Linked DNA regions of Homo sapiens: region 2 is linked to region 1. The links come from fine-mapping of genetic effects on gene expression. Tissue or cell type: whole blood. Region 1 holds a variant in brackets; the other region holds the start of a gene. All regions are shown on one strand. Distances are between the middles of the regions.

Region 1 (8,330 bases):
TAGCCAGTTCACACCAGCCCCCAGTGTGGGGAGACTGCTGTGAGTTGCCATTTGCAGAGAGGAAGCTGGGGCCAAGAGGCAGAATCACTTGCTGCAGCGTCCCACAGTGACTTCGGAGGACAGCTCCTCTGAGAACGGGAGTCCCCTGCCAAGGGGAGGGAGCTGGCAGGGCGCCTCTGCATTAGAATTCTCCCAGAGAAGACCGCGGCAAAGGCCTGTGCTCCAAAGGCAAGGGGCATGACTCAGCTGAGGCAACAGCTGTTTCTGTTCCACAGACACCTAGCCGGGAATGAAATCTCTCCTGACTCGGCTGTGCCTTTCCCGTATCCTCCTCTTCTTCTCAGGATTGCTCTTCACCCTCCTCCGCCCTGTCCCCCAGATGGCCCCTGTGACCCTGGGCTCTGCAGTCCTCCCTGGGCATCTCCTGGGCAGTGCTGAGCGGAAGGTCGACCGCCCCACTGCCCATCCCCTGGGAGCAAACCCCTGGCTTTCATGATGTCATCTGTGCTGAGACATCTGTGACTACCTTCACCTTCATATGTTTCTGGGACAGGCAAGGACTGGTGTAAGAGCGTCCCTAGGAACGTGGTTCCTCAGAGGCTTCTGGGTTGGAGGCTCCAGGGACATGAGACACACTCACCCAGGGCCCCCTGAATGGTGGGGTCCAAAAGGGGCACTGTGCAGCTGCAACGGTAGAGATATTCTGTGTAAGTCCCCTTGAGAGAGAATTTCTCACCTGAAGACATTATACTAAATGAAAGAAGTGAGCCACAAAAGTCCATATGTTGAATGATTCCATTCATATGAAAGTTCAAAATATGGAAGTTTGTAGAGATAGAAAGTAGATTAGTGGTTGCTTGGAATGGGGGCAGGGAAGCCACAGCTCATGGGATTTCTTTCCAAGGTGATGACAATGTTCCAAGATTGACTGTGGTGATGGACGCACGTATCTGCGAATATTCTGAAAACCAGGGAATCATACCCTTTCAATGGGGGAACTGCATGGGCTGTGAATTATAGCTCATAAAGCTGTTTAAGAAAAGAAAAAGATAATGTCTCCCCACCATCTCACTATGAAACATACTGCTATAAATATACCATGCAAAGGAAAAAAGTCGGCCTCATTTTTTAAAGGACTCACTTGCAAGGTGATGCCCCCAGAGGCTGGGTGGGGTCCTGAGATCTGTCAGGAGCTGGGGTTAAACCCATAGTGGGCTTTGTTCTATGGACAACTGTGGACAAGGTTCCCACTATAGACTGCAGGAACCTGCGAGCCAGTGTGGGGAGCATGGAATTTCCCAGGGAGCTGGAAAATAGTCTTCATCAGGTTGGTAAAAGCACACACTGGAACAGGGCAGAGTCTGGCCTGACCTCAAGGCCCTCCGCGCAGCTGCCGGAAGCTCAGAGCCCAGGCTGTGGCTGCAGCCAGCAAGGTGCACACAGGAGGCTGTGACCAGCTCTCCACACACTGACTTCCCCTCACTTTTCCTGCCATTGATTCCTCACACCAGTCACATCTTAAGCCACGTGGGAAGAATGGAGTGGAGTGAGATGACTCTGCAGACAGGAGCTGAGGACTACCTTCTCAGATTTGCCATTTCCAGCTGCCATCTGTGCATTAATTTACCTCATATGTATTTTACAGTTAATTTTTCCCAAAATAATGACATTGCAACCATAAGCATAGAAACAATGTCACTATCCGGTTTACCTTTGCCTATCCACGCTATTAGAGAACTCCAGACACCTGGCTCCACCCTGAGCCCTTCTTGCCTTCATCAGAAAAACCAAAGAGAGTAAAGGAGGAGGAAAATCGTTTCCTCACTGTGAAATTCAGTGTTCCTCGATAGCATGTGTATAGGTCACCCGTAAGCGCCTCTGGCCCACGGGGTCCCACTGGGATTCCATAACGGAGTCTCTTCCCAACCATGTGCAACCCAAGCTGCTCCTTTGGGGTTTGGTTCATAAGTGGCTCTAGTTCAGCCACACCCAGGTACCAGGAGACCAAGGCCCGTTAGCTGACTTGGACACCGATGCATGGCTGGATGGGTCTTCTCCTGGTCCCCACCAGTGAGGCAGCTGTGAGCAAGGCAGACCTCAAGCCCACCATCACCTGGTCAGGGAAAGCGCCATGTTATCCCTAACCCAATATACCTGTGTTTGTGCTGAGTGCTACAGAGAAGACGTGCAGGACTCCCTGAGACTGTGTGAACGAGGAAGCAACTTAAATTGGTCCTCCTGGGAGGGTCACGTAGCCACCAGGCAAAAGGCACTTAGGAGAGGGGTTCCCAGGCCAGGGCCTCCCTCTTCCCACTGGATGTGCCCGCTGGATCCTCCTCCTATTTCTCCATGCCACCCTCGCATGCCTCCTGAATCCAAGCCCTGCCTGTACCAATGTGCTCCTGTCCCTCCGTCAGTGCCCGTTATGGAAAAGGCCACATAATCTGTTGAATCTTAAACTCAACTGTGGATGAAATCTACACACACATCTTATTCCATGGTGGTCTGGGCATTTTTATTTAATTGATTTTGCTCCCATTTTTGTAAGATGCACAGTGCATCCCACCGGCCCTGCCACGTGCCTTCAGGCAACCTAAGATCCATCAGCAGAGGACGCTTTCTGGTCAGAGATGCCCACATCTGATTCCTTAGGGACAACTTGGTTTTAATAAATCCAAAGTCTTCATTGCACTGATTTTTCTACCCAAATGCAATTCTCTCCTGATTGCTTCTCAGTCAAGCAGCTCAGAGAACACCTGTGAAGACAGCGGTATCTCTCACCCAGCAGGTGGGCAGCAGGTGCAGGGAGGTGGGGGGGTCAAGGTGCTATGTGAATTCAAACCACAGGGGACATAGGCCTGGGAGGGCAGCCCCATCCTCAGCCCCCCAGACACTTCTGTAGTACCTTGGAGACTTTTGGCTGCAAAGGAATCTCCACATAGGCCTGGAGTGCTTCGAGCCCAGTCCTCATCCAAGTGGGGAACATGTGGATGAGGCTGAGCTGATTCTTACTGGGTGGGGGTGGCGCTGGGGGAGATGAGGAGAAGGGAAAGAGAAGTGCAGAAAGTCCCCGCTGGGGTTTGTACACGCCTGTCCACAGTGAGGAACGGAGTTTGTACGTACCCATCCGCGGTGGGGAGCGGGTTTGTATGTGTCCATCCACGGCGAGGAGCGGGGCTGGGCTACTGAGGGGTGCTACTGGCCCCCATGTCTGCTCCTCTTTGACTGTATGGGGCTCACTGACCCTGGCGACATCAACTGGGGTGTATTCTGGATAACCACGGGACTGTACTTTCCTCATGCCCATCCTCAGCCATCCAAAGAGACAAGGCTGTCCTTGGTTACTCCATTCCAACTCCAAATCTGATCATCAGAACACTTCCTGGACTTGGGAATATAAACAGTTGAATCCAGAAAAAGAAATAATGAGCAAGAGAAAGAAAGAGAGAGAAAGAGAAAGGGAGAGAGAGAGAGAAAGAGAAAGGGAGAGAGAGAGAGAAAAGAAAGAGAGAGAGAGAAAGAGAGAGAAAGAAAGAGAGAAAGAGAAAGAAAGAAAGAGAA[AAAAG/A]AAAGAAAGAAAGAAGAAAGAAAGAAAGAAAAAGAAGGAAGGAAGGAGAGGGAGGGAGGGAAGAAGAAATGAAGGAAAGAGAGAGAGAGAAAGAAAGGAAGGGCAGGGCAGGGGACTACTGACAGTGTGGTTAATTTGTTTTGCCAAATAAAGACCAAAAAGATCTGCTGGTCACTACCATTGCATAAAGGAAAGGACATTTTAATATCAAAGCAAGTAGGAGGGCTAGAATATCAGAAGAAATAGCAGCTCTTCTCATGACAATACCAAATGGCATAAATCCTTTCTCAGAATGATGAATTACTTAACTTCCACCTACCTCAGTTTCCTCATCTGGCAAACAGGTCAGCATTGCTCAGAGGGTTACTGTGAGAATCACTGAGTTATTATTTGTAAAGTGCTTAGGATAGTGCCTGGAATGTAGGTCTGATATAAGTGTTTGTTAAATAAAAAAATTAAACCCATATTTAAAAAGTTACTCAGGCCAGGTGCAGTGGCTCACGCCTGTAATCCCAACCCTTTGGGAGGCTGAGGAGGGCAGATCACCTGAGGTCAGGAGTTCAAGACCAGCCTGGCCAACATGGTGAAACCCCGTCTCTACCAAAAATAGAAAAATTAGCTGGGCATGGTGGCATGCACCTGTAATCCCAGCTACTCAGGAAGCTGAGGCATGAGAATCACTTGAACCCAGGAGGCAGAGGTTGCAGTGAGCCACACGCCACTGTACTCACGCCTGGGTGACAGAGCAAGACTCTGTCTCAAGAAAAAAAAGTTTTAAAAAGTTAATCAGGGCAAGCGTGCCGGGGATTGGGATTGAGATCCAGCACAGGGCCCTGGGGGGACTAAAGATGCATTTTTGCAGAGGAAAATGCCTGCCCTGTTCTCTTTGCCTGCTTCCTGTGTTTTTGCACTCCAGTCACCCCATGTGACCGCTGGTCGGGGGCCCTTCCTGGGCTGGGGCTCTCCTCTAGGCCAAAACTCACCCCTCCTCCTCCCCCGCAGATCTTCGGGGGCCTGGTGTGGATCCTGGTGGCCTCCTCCCTGGTGCCCTGGCCCCTGGTCCAGGGCTGGGTGATGTTCGTGTCTGTGTTCTGCTTCGTGGCCACCACCACCTTGATCATCCTGTACATAATTGGAGCCCACGGTGGAGAGACTTCCTGGGTCACCTTGGTGAGTCCAGCCCAGGGTGGCTGCTGGTTGTAGGGGGGCGCAGGAAGTACTGGTCCCTGGCCCAGTAGGATGGGCTTTTCCAGTGCCAGGTGAGACTTCTCCGTAGATGTCACCCCACCATGTTCCAAGGCTGAGCCTGCCCAGGGCTCCTGGCAGCAGAATCAGGAGAGGCAGGGGCAGAGGCAAGGTCGCCGCTGCCAACCCTCACTGGACCTGTTCTGTGTTCTCCTGCATGACTGCCTTTCCATGGATAACCAGCTGCCCAGCCCCCACACCACCTGTACCCGCCAGGTGCCTGCCTGCCCCTCCCATCACCTGCAAGGGCTGTTTTCACCTCAAGGCAGCAGGGCCCCAGAGGCCGACCAAGGTGTTGGGCTCCAGAAATTGGCCCTGGCTCTGAGGGTCAGGCCATGCTTACTGTCCAGCTCCTCAGCCACTGCCTTCCAAGCAGGGCTGCCAGAGAGCACTGGGAAACAGAAGCGGCCTTTGGTCATTATTCTGTATAAATTCTGCTTTGAGACCCATGAAAAGGTAACTTTTACATGTAGGACACTTGCCTGTTACCTGCTGTAGGGGTGGTGGGGCCATTTGGCCAAGGCTGTCACTCTCAAAAGCTCTGCTACTTAGACTTTTGAAATCACTTCCAAATCACAACTACACAAAACCCTGTTTTAGTACCTTTTTGCTTTCATTTATTACTTTATTTTGAGTTGGGGGTCTCATTCTGTCACCCAGGCTGGAGTGCAGTGGCGCAATCTCATCTCACTGCAGCCTCAACCTCCCAGGCTCAAGTGATCGTCCTGCCACAGCCTCCTGAGTAGCTGGGACTACAGGCATGTGCCACCACACCCAGCTAAGATGTATTGTTTTGTGTAGAAATGGGGATCTAACTATGTTTCCCAGGCTGGTCTCAAGTCCTGGCCTCAAGAGATCCTCCTGCACCAATCTCCCAAAGCTCTAGGATTACAGTCATGAGCCACCACGCCCAGCCCTTTTTTGCTTTTAAATATACCAGGGGCCAAAAATAAGCAATGAAACAAAACAAAACAAAACAAAACAAAACGAAAGAAACAGCATGGTCCTCCCTCACCCTGCACTGGTCAGCGAGGCCACACCCAACCTGGACTGTGGCCATGCACGACACTTCTCAGATCCAGGACCAGCTTTTCCCTGGGACACCCCAAGCTGCTGGCCCTTCCTCCACCTCTCCCTTGACCCTTCCTCAGGGGAGACCAGTGTCCCATCCCCAGCAAAGTGCTCACTCTGGCCCCACAGCAGTGAAGTGAGACTCAGCACAGCAGGGCAGGCATGGGACCTCCGTGACAAGGTTGGGAGGGGTGGGATTCAAAGGAAGTGGGGGGAGAGGCAAGGGGCGGGGGTGGAGGGGACCTCAGCTCTGCATCTGGGCCCCGTCTCTCTCTCCCCATCCCTCTGACACCCCGTCTGCCCCATAGGACGCAGCCTACCACTGCACCGCTGCCCTCTTTTACCTCAGCGCCTCAGTCCTGGAGGCCCTGGCCACCATCACGATGCAAGACGGCTTCACCTACAGGCACTACCATGAAAACATTGCTGCCGTGGTGAGTCCGGGCACCTGGGGCTGTGTCCACAGCGGGCGGCTCCGTGGCTGGCAGGGTGTGTGTGGAGGCTGCCTAGGCCCTTGGTCTGTTTTCAGTTCACTAACTTTTGAGTGAGGTCAAACCTTGCCTTCATGCCTGGAGCAGGAAAGCCCCCGAGAAGGGCAGTGTCATGTTGTGCCCAAGACTCCGCTTAGTCGTCCGGCCAGGGCTGCATGCCCCAGGCCTGCGTGGGCTTTGCAGAGGGCAGATGTGTGAGGGGATGCGGCTGCCCAGCGCCCTGTCCGAGTGCTCCCTGAACAATCTTATTTAACATCCATGGCAACCCTACAACCCAGGATTATGACACCCATCTCACAGATGGAGAAGTGGGGCCAGAGAGTGTGACTGGCCCAAGATCACCAGTCATTGTGGGACCTGGCATCAACGCTGGAGGCCCAGTCCCCACACTCTCAGCACCAGTTTGGGGCTGTGAGTCTGACCTCATGGGTCTCCTGACTCTCCCCAAGTGGTCGTCCATTGAAGCATCCAGCCAGGGGTGGGGACGCTGAGGCCAGGTGGATTTTCTTCTTAATGGACTGGATCAGAATGACAGGGTAACAGAATATATTGTTTCATCACATGTTTTTCAGAGCTGTGCATGTGTGCCCTTGCACCAGTCTACGATATAAAACATGCTTCTGACCATGGGTATTGTTAAAAAGTAAGAAGTTTCAGAAAGAGCACTCTTCAGATCTCTAGAACTTAACCTATGAATTATGCAAATCCCAAGGTAGAATGTGGTGACAGATCCTGAGATACCAGCTCTAGTAGCCAAAGCTGTGTCATCCCCTCTTTTTGGAAAGTGTAGGGCAGAGGCTGAGAGAAGACCCACAGATAGGCTTTAGAAATGGGGTTGGTGAAGTGCCTCTTCCCACTCCCAGAAGGAGGGCCCCAGGGGAAAATCCCTCAAAGCCTCACTTGCTGGTCCCCTTGCACAGTCCCCTGCCCTGGGGAAACCACACACTGCCCTCAAGCTCCCAGCCTACAATCGCTCCCCTAAAAAGGGCCCCCTCAGGATCCTGGCATCCCCCCAGGGGTCCCGCGGTGTGGAAACATCTCCCGTGTTGGCCCATCTCCCAACATGGCTGGTTTCCAAGCAGCAGCACAGCCAGGGGGCATCTTGACTGATCTTCCTTCCTGGGGAGGCTGGTGAGCCACCCTCCATCTTCTTCACACAATTCCATCTCATCTCCCTCTCCCAAGACTGCCTCATACCTCCCCCATCCCAGCCAAGCCTTCTCTTTTAACAAACATCAACAAAGTGTCTGACAATAATTTCCATAAAATTGTTGTGAACAAAGGTTGCGAAATGTAGATGGGATGTGGTTAGTGGGTCAGCACTTGATGGAAAAACCCAGCTAGGGGAATGAACACCCCTTCCCGCTGGGCAGGTCTCTAGTTGAGAACCACTAGGCTCTACTGCCTTCTGACTTTCCTCTTTTACCTTTTATCAAAGGCAGCACACAGCCAGAGAGGTGTGCAGTTACAAGCCCACAGCTTGATGGATTTCATACAGCGAACTCCCTGTGTGGATGGTGTCTGGACTAAGAATTAGGGCCAGTTACCAGCGCACAGTCTGATGAATTCTCATAGAGCAAACTCCCCAGTGTAGTTGGCATCTGGACTAAGAATTAGGGCCTGATAAACAACTCCCAGAAATCCCCTCAAGTCCTGTCCCCATCACTGTGCACCCCCACCACCACCCAATTCTGATTTCTAGCACCATGTTCAGTTTTGCCTGCCTTTGAACTTCATATAAGTGGAATTATACAGTGGGTACTCATGTGTGGCTTCTTTCTCTCACCCTTGTGTTTGTGAGACTCACCCAAGTGGCTGGGTGTAGATGTGGGTTGTTTGTTCTCATTACTGTATAGTATTCCCTTGTAGGAATAGACCAACATCTATTTATCCATCCCATGACTGACCATGTTCCCATTTTTTTTTAGTTGAGTTGGATAGACACGAATATGTTCACG
Region 2 (8,330 bases), 120 kb after region 1:
CAACCCGTGACCACTGCTCTGTTACCTTCCCTATAGTTTTGCCTTTTCCTGAATGTCACATAAATGGAATCATACAGTTTGTAAATTTTTAAGACTGGCGGCCGGGCGCAGTGGCTCACACCTGTCTCTACTAAACCCCGTCTCTACTAAAAATACAAAAATTAGCCGCGTGTGGTGGCGTGCGCCTGTAATCCCAGCTACCTAGGAGGCTGAGGCACGAAAATCTCTGGAACCCGGGAGGCAGAGGCTGCAGTGGGCCGAGGTTGCAACACTGCACTCCAGCCTGGGTGACAGAGCAAGACTCCATCTCAAAAAAAAAAAAAAAAAAGAAACGAAAACTGGCTTCTTGGCCGGGCGCAGTGGCTCATGCCTGTAATCCCAGCACTTTGGGAGGCCGAGGTGGGCGGATCACCTGAGCTCAGGAGACCAACCTGACCAAAATGGAGAAAACCTGTCTCTACTAAAAATACACAATTAGCTGGGCATGGTGGCACACGCCTGTAATCCCAGGTACTCGGGAGGCTGAGGCAGAAGAATCACTTGAACTCGGGATGCGGAGGTTGTGGTGAGCCAAGATCGTGCCATTGCACTCCAGCTCAGGCAACAAGAGCGAAACCGTCTCCAAAATAAATAAATAAATAAATAAAGCCATGCAGCTTCTGTCTTGCTCACTGGGACCCTCTTAGAGCCCTGAAATGAGGTGCAAGAAGCCTGATTGCCCCGAGGCCACCATGTTGTGAGGAAGTCCAAGCACAAAGAGAGGCTACATGCGGGGACACTGGCGAACAGTCCCAGCTGAGCCTAGCCACGGGTGCCAATCTGGGTGCCAGATATAGTCCTCCCAATTGAGGATCCAGAAATTGTGAAGCAGAAACGAGCTGTGTTAGGCCATTTTGCACTGCTATAAAGAAATACCTGAAACTGGGTAATTTATAAAGAAAAGAGGTTTCCTTGGCTCTTGGTTCTGCTGGCTGTACAGGAAGCATGGCAACGGCATCTGTTTGGCTACTGGGGAGGCCTCAGGGAGCTTTCACTCACTGTGGAAGGTGAAGTGGGAGTTTGCACTTTGCATGGTGAAAGCAGGAACAAAACAGAGTTGGGGAGGGCAGGAAGGTGTCACACACGTAAACAACCAGATCTCAGGAGTACTCACTATTGCAAGGACGGCACCAAGCCATGAGGGATCTGCCCCCATCACCCAAATACCTCCCACCAGGCCCCATCTCCAACACTGGGGTTTACATCTCAACATGAGATTTGGAGAGGATATCCAAATGATATCCCTGTGTGCCCATCCCTGTTGTGCCCATCCAAGTTCCCGACCCACAGAACATGTTGGCCTAATAAAATTGTTGTTTTCAGCCACTAAGTTTGGAGTGGTTAAACAGCATCAGACGGCCATAACATCCTGCAATTTGGCAGAGCCTACAAGCTTCTGGGCCCAAGAGATACCTGTTTTACTCTAAAAAGATGGATGTATGTCACTTCTTGGCTGCTTAGCTTCCATATGCTCCTCCTAACTCTTTTGAGAATATCAGTTAAAATTCTCTTAATCTTCCCAGTAACATGGCCGATTAGATGGCCTAAACAGCCCTCTTAATAAAAAAACTAAAAATGCTGAAAAATTGCAAACATCTTTATAAACACACTGATGAGCAGGCATGAAAGTGAGGAATTTGTAAACATTTAAAAAAATAAAGTGAAATGGGCCAGGTGCAGTGGCTCATGCCTATAATCCTAGCACTCTGGGAGGCCGAAGAGGGTGGATTGCTTGAGCCCGAGTTTGAAACCAGCCTGGGCAACATGGTAAAACCCCATGTCTACAAAAAAATACAAAAAGTAGCCAGACATGGTGGTGCATGCCTGTAGTCCCAGCTACTCTTGAGGCTGAGATGGGAGGACTACGTGAGCCCAGGAGGTGGAGGTTGCAGTGAGCTGAGAGCATGCCACTGCATTCTGGCCTGGCTGACACAGCCAGAGCCTGTCTCAAAAAATAAATAAAGTGAGAGCTAGAATTCTGAGAATCGAGCAACAAACCTGACTTTTAGACTGCTAAATCCTAGAGCACATAAACTTCCACTTTGGCAGCTACCTGGAAGCGGTAAAGACAAAGCCTAGGGCCTGCCAGTGGGTGGGGAATATTCTAGAAGGAAACACTTTCAGGACCCCAGTTTCCACCCTCAGTATAAGGCTAAATAATAAAAACCACCACACAGAAGGGAACAAAAAAAAAAAAGTATTTCTCTTATGGATGTTGTGACTTTAATCAAGCTCTAATCTCCTAGGAAGGTCCAAACCCCTTAGTACAACACAAAGGCAGCCACAACCTGGCCTTACCTCAAGATAGTTATTGGCCCCTAAACCTCATCCACAAGGCATTCATTTTGCTACTAATTATTTTCACTTTTATCCTCTAGACTATGCCTTTGCATGTACTATTCACTGTTTAGATCACACTTTTTTTTTCTTAAGTATTTAAGTATACCAGTGAAAGGAATCCTTTCCCACCTTTCCCGGCCATAGTTAATAGCTTCCTCCATTGTACTCTCATAGTATGTTGAATGTGACATAATTATAGAACATACTGCCTCTATTGTGATTTTACATTCTGATTTTTTCCATTGGACCAAGAGTTCATTTGGGGCAGTAACTTACTCATATTTGTAACTGTGCCTTGCTTATGGTGAGCAATTTGGATTTTTTGAATGAAAGTGTAGTCTTATGGAGATGGAGAGTAGAAGGATGGTTAACAGACTGGGAAGGGTTGGCGGGGTGGGGAAGTGGGGATAGTTAATGGGTACAAAAAATAGAATAAGAAATAGTATAACTAGTATTTGATAGCACATCAGAGTAATTACAGCCAATAATATTGTATATTTTAAAGTAACTAAAAGAATATAACTGGATCGTTTGTAACACAAAGGACAAATGCTTGAGGTGATGGATATCCCATTTGTCCTGATGAGATTATTACTTATTGCATGCCTGTGTCAAAATATCTCAGGTGGCCCATAAATGTTCACACCTACTGTGTACCCACAAAAACTTAAAAAAAACCCAAACCACTAATAAATTAACCTGGAAAAACGTAGCTTTGTTCCTGAAGTAAGATTTTATCATATTCTTTGTAATTTTCAGTCTTCCCTGAGATGTAGCTCAGTGGTTCCTAGCTTTAGCTGCACATTAGAGTCACCTGCAGCTCTTTTCAAACTGTCGCTCCACAGCTGGGCCTCAGGCATCAATGTCGAAAGCTCTCCGGGTGATTCCAGCTTGCAGCCAGGGCCGTTCCAGCAACTCCAAGGCTGGCTGGTGTGCGCTGAAGCTGTCGGGAGTCGGACCAGCTGCACAGTTAATACATATGTGTCCTAGGCTCCTCTCTCCTTCCAACGCAAATATGTGTACAAACCCTGCCTGGAACCGCAGCCCTGCTCTCAGAATCAAATTCCTGAAAGTGGGCAAGCGGAAGCGGAAATAAGCCCTCTCCCAACGCCAGCTGACTCGATTTCGTCTCGGTCTTCCCCAGAGCTGGACACGAGGCACCATGATCAGAGAGACACATTCCCTGCGGACGGCGCTCCCATCGGATACTGGAGGGACGCGACACTAGAGGCAGGCAGTACTTCAGGGTGACCATAAGTCTCCCAAACAGCCACAACGGCTCGCTCTCCCAGCTAAGGCGACAGCGCTGCCATTTTGGATCCTGTTCAGCCACGGGAAGCCGGCGTTTGCACACATTTTCGGACGTCATATTAAAGCGCACCGGACGCCGAGACTTCTGGGAGATGAAGTCCTTGCGAAGGCCCCGCATTGATTGGGAGCGCAGTCGCCAGGACCCTGTGCGCAGGCGCGTTGGTTTCCCGACCTGAAGAGGCGCCGTCTTCCCGGGTCCCGAGCACTCTGTGCCGGAGGTGAGGGTTGTGGGTGTGTGTCTTCAAGGAGCGGAGTGAGCGCAGCAGCCGAGAGAGGGGACATGAGAACTTTGGGGAGGTGCTGTGGGAGCAAAACGGGGTGACACGGGCGAGGCCAGCCTGCAGAGCGTGTGTCGCGACGTCTCGGTGCGGACGGAAAGTTGTGCATCCACCCCCGTGTGTGCGTGTGTCCCGTGGGGTCTGGGCACCCATTGTATGTCGGTCCCGGACTTTAAGGTTGGAGGTTTGGAGTCTTCCTCCGCCTCTCCCGTTTCTTCTTCCCATAATGGGTGCTTAATGAACGTGGGTGGAATTGACACCAAATCTAGGATGCTGCCGCTCCGTCTTTGCCAGACAGCGCCTCAGATTGCCTCATTTAGCTCCCTGCCCTGGGCCTCCGCACGAGTGCTGGAGGGCTTCATGGAGGAGGTGGGATTTGACGTGAAAGAAAAACAACAACAACAAAACAAAAACCACGAAAGAAGCAGCTAAGCGTTAGGCAGATTTGAGCTGGAGATAGTTTTTACAGAAATGCAGGAACAGTGGTAGACAAGGTTGAAGAAAAGGTACGCTGGGAGCCAGGGCCCGGGACTCAGAGAATCAGGACAAGACTCAGTAGGCAAGGTGGCTTATATAGGTGTGATCCAGGGACTGACACGAATGAAACTATTTGGAGACAGTTATTCTAGAGGTCACATTCAGGACTAGAGAGGGGAAAGGACCAGTAGCAGAGAGCTACTTAGGAATGTATGGTAGTTTTGGAGTAAGATGTTGTGGACTTGAATTATGGTGGTGGTAGTGAAAGGGAAGGATACAGATGACACTGCAAAAGAAGAGTCAAAAGGGCCTGGTGACTAGATTTGGGAGGAAAGAGAGTGAGGTAAGAGTTTGAATTTGGGACACCTGGGAGAACAATAAAACATCTGATACAAATGTAAAGCCAGGAAGAGGCGTTGATGTGTGGAATTGCCTAAAGGAAGATAGTTTTGAGGTGATGGTGGAACGCCTGATTTAAGGTTTGCAGTCATTTGGAAATGCAGGATGAGTCTGGAAGAATGCAATACAGTTGTATTGTAAAATTACAATACAATTACAGGACATGGACATCTGTAGAGTTTGAAAATGGAGCCCTGAATGTGGATGGACTTTCTGAGGGATGGCAAAAACGAAGAAAGTACAAAGACTGAGCTATGGGCAGCATCCATGTTTCCAGGGCAAAAGTGGGGAAAAAGAGTCACAGAAAGACAGCAATTTTAGTGGTTGGAAGAAAAGCTAGTGCAGTATCATAGCAGTTACAGTAACCACTTGAATAAGCAGAAGCTTGTCCGAACAGTGAAAAGCTACAGAGAAATAGATAATATGGCCGGGCACAGTGGCTCACGCCTGTAAGTCCCAGCACTTTGGGAGTCTGAGGCGGGCGGATCACGAGGTCAGGAGATCGAGACCATCCTGGCTAACACGGTGAAACCCCGTCTCTACTAAAAAAATACAAAAAATTAGCCGGGCGTGGTGGCGGGCGCCTGTAGTCCCGGCTACTCGGGAGGCTGAGGCAGGAGAATGGCATGAACCCGGCAGGCGGAGCTTGCAGTGAGCCAAGATTGCGCCACTGCACTCCAGCCTGGGTGACAGAGCGAGACTCAGTCTCAAAAAAAAAAAAAAAAAAAAAGAAAGAAATAGAGATAATAGGATCAGAAATGCATTGGTAGGCCAGGTGCGGTAGCTCATGCCTGTAATCCCAGCACTTTGGGAAGCCGAGGTGGGCAGATCACTTGACGTCAGGAGTTCAAGACCAGCCTGGCCAACATGGTGAAACCCCGTCTCTACAAAAATACAAAAATTAGCAGGGCATGATGGCGGGTGCCTGTAATCCCAGCTACTTGGGAGGCTGAGGTGGGAGAATCACTTGAGCCCGAGAGGTGGAGGTTGCAGTGAGCCGAGATGATGCCATTGCTCTTCAGCCTGGGCGACAAGAGTGAAATTCCGTCTCAAAAAAAAAAAAAAAAAGTAGTTTTCAAGCATGCCATTTCAGGTGTGTGAGGGGCAAAAGCTGAAAAACAGGGACTGGAGAAGAGTAAGTGGTAACAGTGTGGAGTCAGTAGGTTATTATTCTCCAAAAAGTTTGATCATGAAAGGACAACCTAAATGAGAACTGCTTTGCTAGAAGGAGGTCATGGGATTCAGTGAAAATAGTTTCAGGTAGAGGAGGCTTGTATGTCTTTGAAGATGTTGAAAGAAAGTGCTACTGGGGTGGAAAATGCTGGAAGAAAAAAAAAAAAAGACTGGGGTCTGGGCGCTGTGGCTCATGCCTGTAATCCCAGCACTGTGGGAGGCTGAGGCAGGCAGATCATGAGGTCAAGAGATTGAAACCATCCTGGCCAAAATGGTGAAACTCTGTCTCTACTAAAAATACAAAAATTAGCTGGGCATGGTGGCCCGCGCCTGTAGTCCCAGCTACTCAGGAGGCTGAGGCAGGAGAATCGCTTGAACCTGGGAGGCAGAGGTTGCAGTGAGCCAAGATCGTGCCATTGCACTCCAGCCTGGGCGACAGAGCCAGACTCCGTCTCAAAAAAAAAAAAAAAAAATACTGGGAAGTGCAGGGACAAATTCTGAGAGGAAGCAATGTGAAAAACAGTGGAACCCAGGGTATAGGACACAAAGGTAAAGTCCTGGAGACAGACATTTCTGTCTTGTTGACCTCACACATCTCGCTGCCCTAGCACATAACAGCTACTTGGTACATATTCATCAAATAGTGGGATGAGTGGATGGATTGCATTGGGCAGTAGAAAGGAAGAGAACTTTATTTGTTGAATGAACTGTATGATAAATGCTTTATATTAATGGTCTCACCATTTATAACTATGCTGTGAGTTAGGTGGTAAACAACTGTTGGCTTAAGTAACTCATCCAAGGCTTCATGGTTAATAATTCCATGCTTGTGGAATGCTTTCTACCATATAACCCTGCTTCCCTTGAAACTCATTCCTGGGAATCTTTGGTGTGGTAGAAGACAAAAGTTATGCGGAAATTGAATGGTACCCATGGAGGTTTGGAATAGCCATGTAGCTAAGATGGGAGCAGTAAAAGCTTTCTGGACGATGTCAAGGGCTCGTTTGAAGATATAGACTGAATTTAGGGGACATTTTCTCCAGTGATACTCTGAGATGCAGGGATAGGAAAAGAGAACACAGAAGTGGAGGTGGTTCTTGGCTAGCAGTAACTCCCTGTGAGTTTGGTGGATTTGAGAAGTCTTCAGTGTCAGTGAGCTTACTGAAGTGACTGCTGGTGGAGTCTAAACCTAATGGGGAGAGAAGTCTACGGATGAGGAGCACTTTGGGAGTATCCACTGGTTGTTTAATAACTGGGGAGCTTATATGTTCACCACCATTTGTAATTCGTTCAGTGCTCAGTTTAATTAAAGTTGTAATCTAATAAACAAAACTTTGAAAATTGTCTTTAAACATTTAACACTGAGCAGTTTCGACTGCAGTTTTGGATATGGTTTGATTTGTTCAAAAAGCTCCAGTGCTTTAGACAAACATATACAAATACTTTGACTCCAAAGTTATTACTGCACTTACATTTAAACCTACTCTAAAATAGCAGCAACTCGGCCAGGCGCAGTGGCTCATGCCTATAATCTCAGCACTTTGGGATGCCAAGGTGGGGAGATCACCTGAGGTCAGGAGTTCAAGACCCGCCCGGCCAAGATGGTGAAACCCTCTACAAAAATACAAAAATTAGCCAGGCATGGTGGCAGGCACCTATAATCCCAGCTACTCAGGAGGCTGAGGCAGGAGAATCGCTTGAACCGGGGAGGCAGAGGTTGCAGTGAGCCGAGATAATGTCATTGCACTCCAGCCCGGGAGACAGAGCGAGACCCTGTCTCAAAAAAAACAAACAAAAAAATGCAACAACTCAGTGTAATTAATATTTTCAGTGTGTCTACCTTCCTAGAATTATAACATTACTTATTACATTACATTAGCTTATACTAACTTTACTTAGCACATTATTCTAAATGTGTTACATGTGTTACCCTATTTAAGCATCAAGATAACTGCAAGAGATATTACTTCCGTTATTCCAGTTTTGCAAACAGGCAGACTGAGACAGGTTAAGAAACTTTCCTGAGGTAGCACCGGTAGGAAGAGGCAGAGGTGGATTTTGATTTCAGGCAGTCTGTCTCCAGAGCCTGTACTCCCAATGACTACACTTTCCTGTATCTCTAAATGCTAATTTTGACTTATTTCTAGGGCCTAAGGGTAATATTTGGATACCCTCTTGTGATGGACGAATCTTAACAGACCAAAAAGGAAAAGAATACTTTTAGACAATACACGTTGCATGCTCTGGTTATCAATTGACATGTCTTTGTTTCTGTTTGTGTTTATATCTGCCTCCTCCCAGCAAGATTCAAAC

The links.
Region 2: ZNF2 starts here. The variant in region 1 is fine-mapped to the expression of ZNF2 in whole blood (INTERVAL, PIP above 0.99).

What each region holds. Positions count from the first base shown.
Region 1 is chr2:95,043,392-95,051,721 of GRCh38, forward strand. It overlaps MAL (mal, T cell differentiation protein (MAL blood group)), which reads left to right. Exons shown (of 4, transcript NM_002371.4): 2 at 4,568-4,735; 3 at 6,190-6,315. LOC124906047 (a long non-coding RNA gene) reads right to left here and starts at 4,682. Exons shown (of 3, transcript XR_007087138.1): 1 at 3,885-4,682; 2 at 3,124-3,387; 3 at 2,494-2,756. RefSeq lists enhancers at 197-852, 4,311-4,850. The variant AAAAG/A (reference allele first, on the strand shown) is at 3,562.
Region 2 is chr2:95,161,953-95,170,282 of GRCh38, forward strand. It overlaps ZNF2 (zinc finger protein 2), which reads left to right and starts at 3,857. Exons shown (of 5, transcript NM_021088.4): 1 at 3,857-3,908. RefSeq lists enhancers at 2,845-3,481, 3,482-4,116, 3,544-3,973.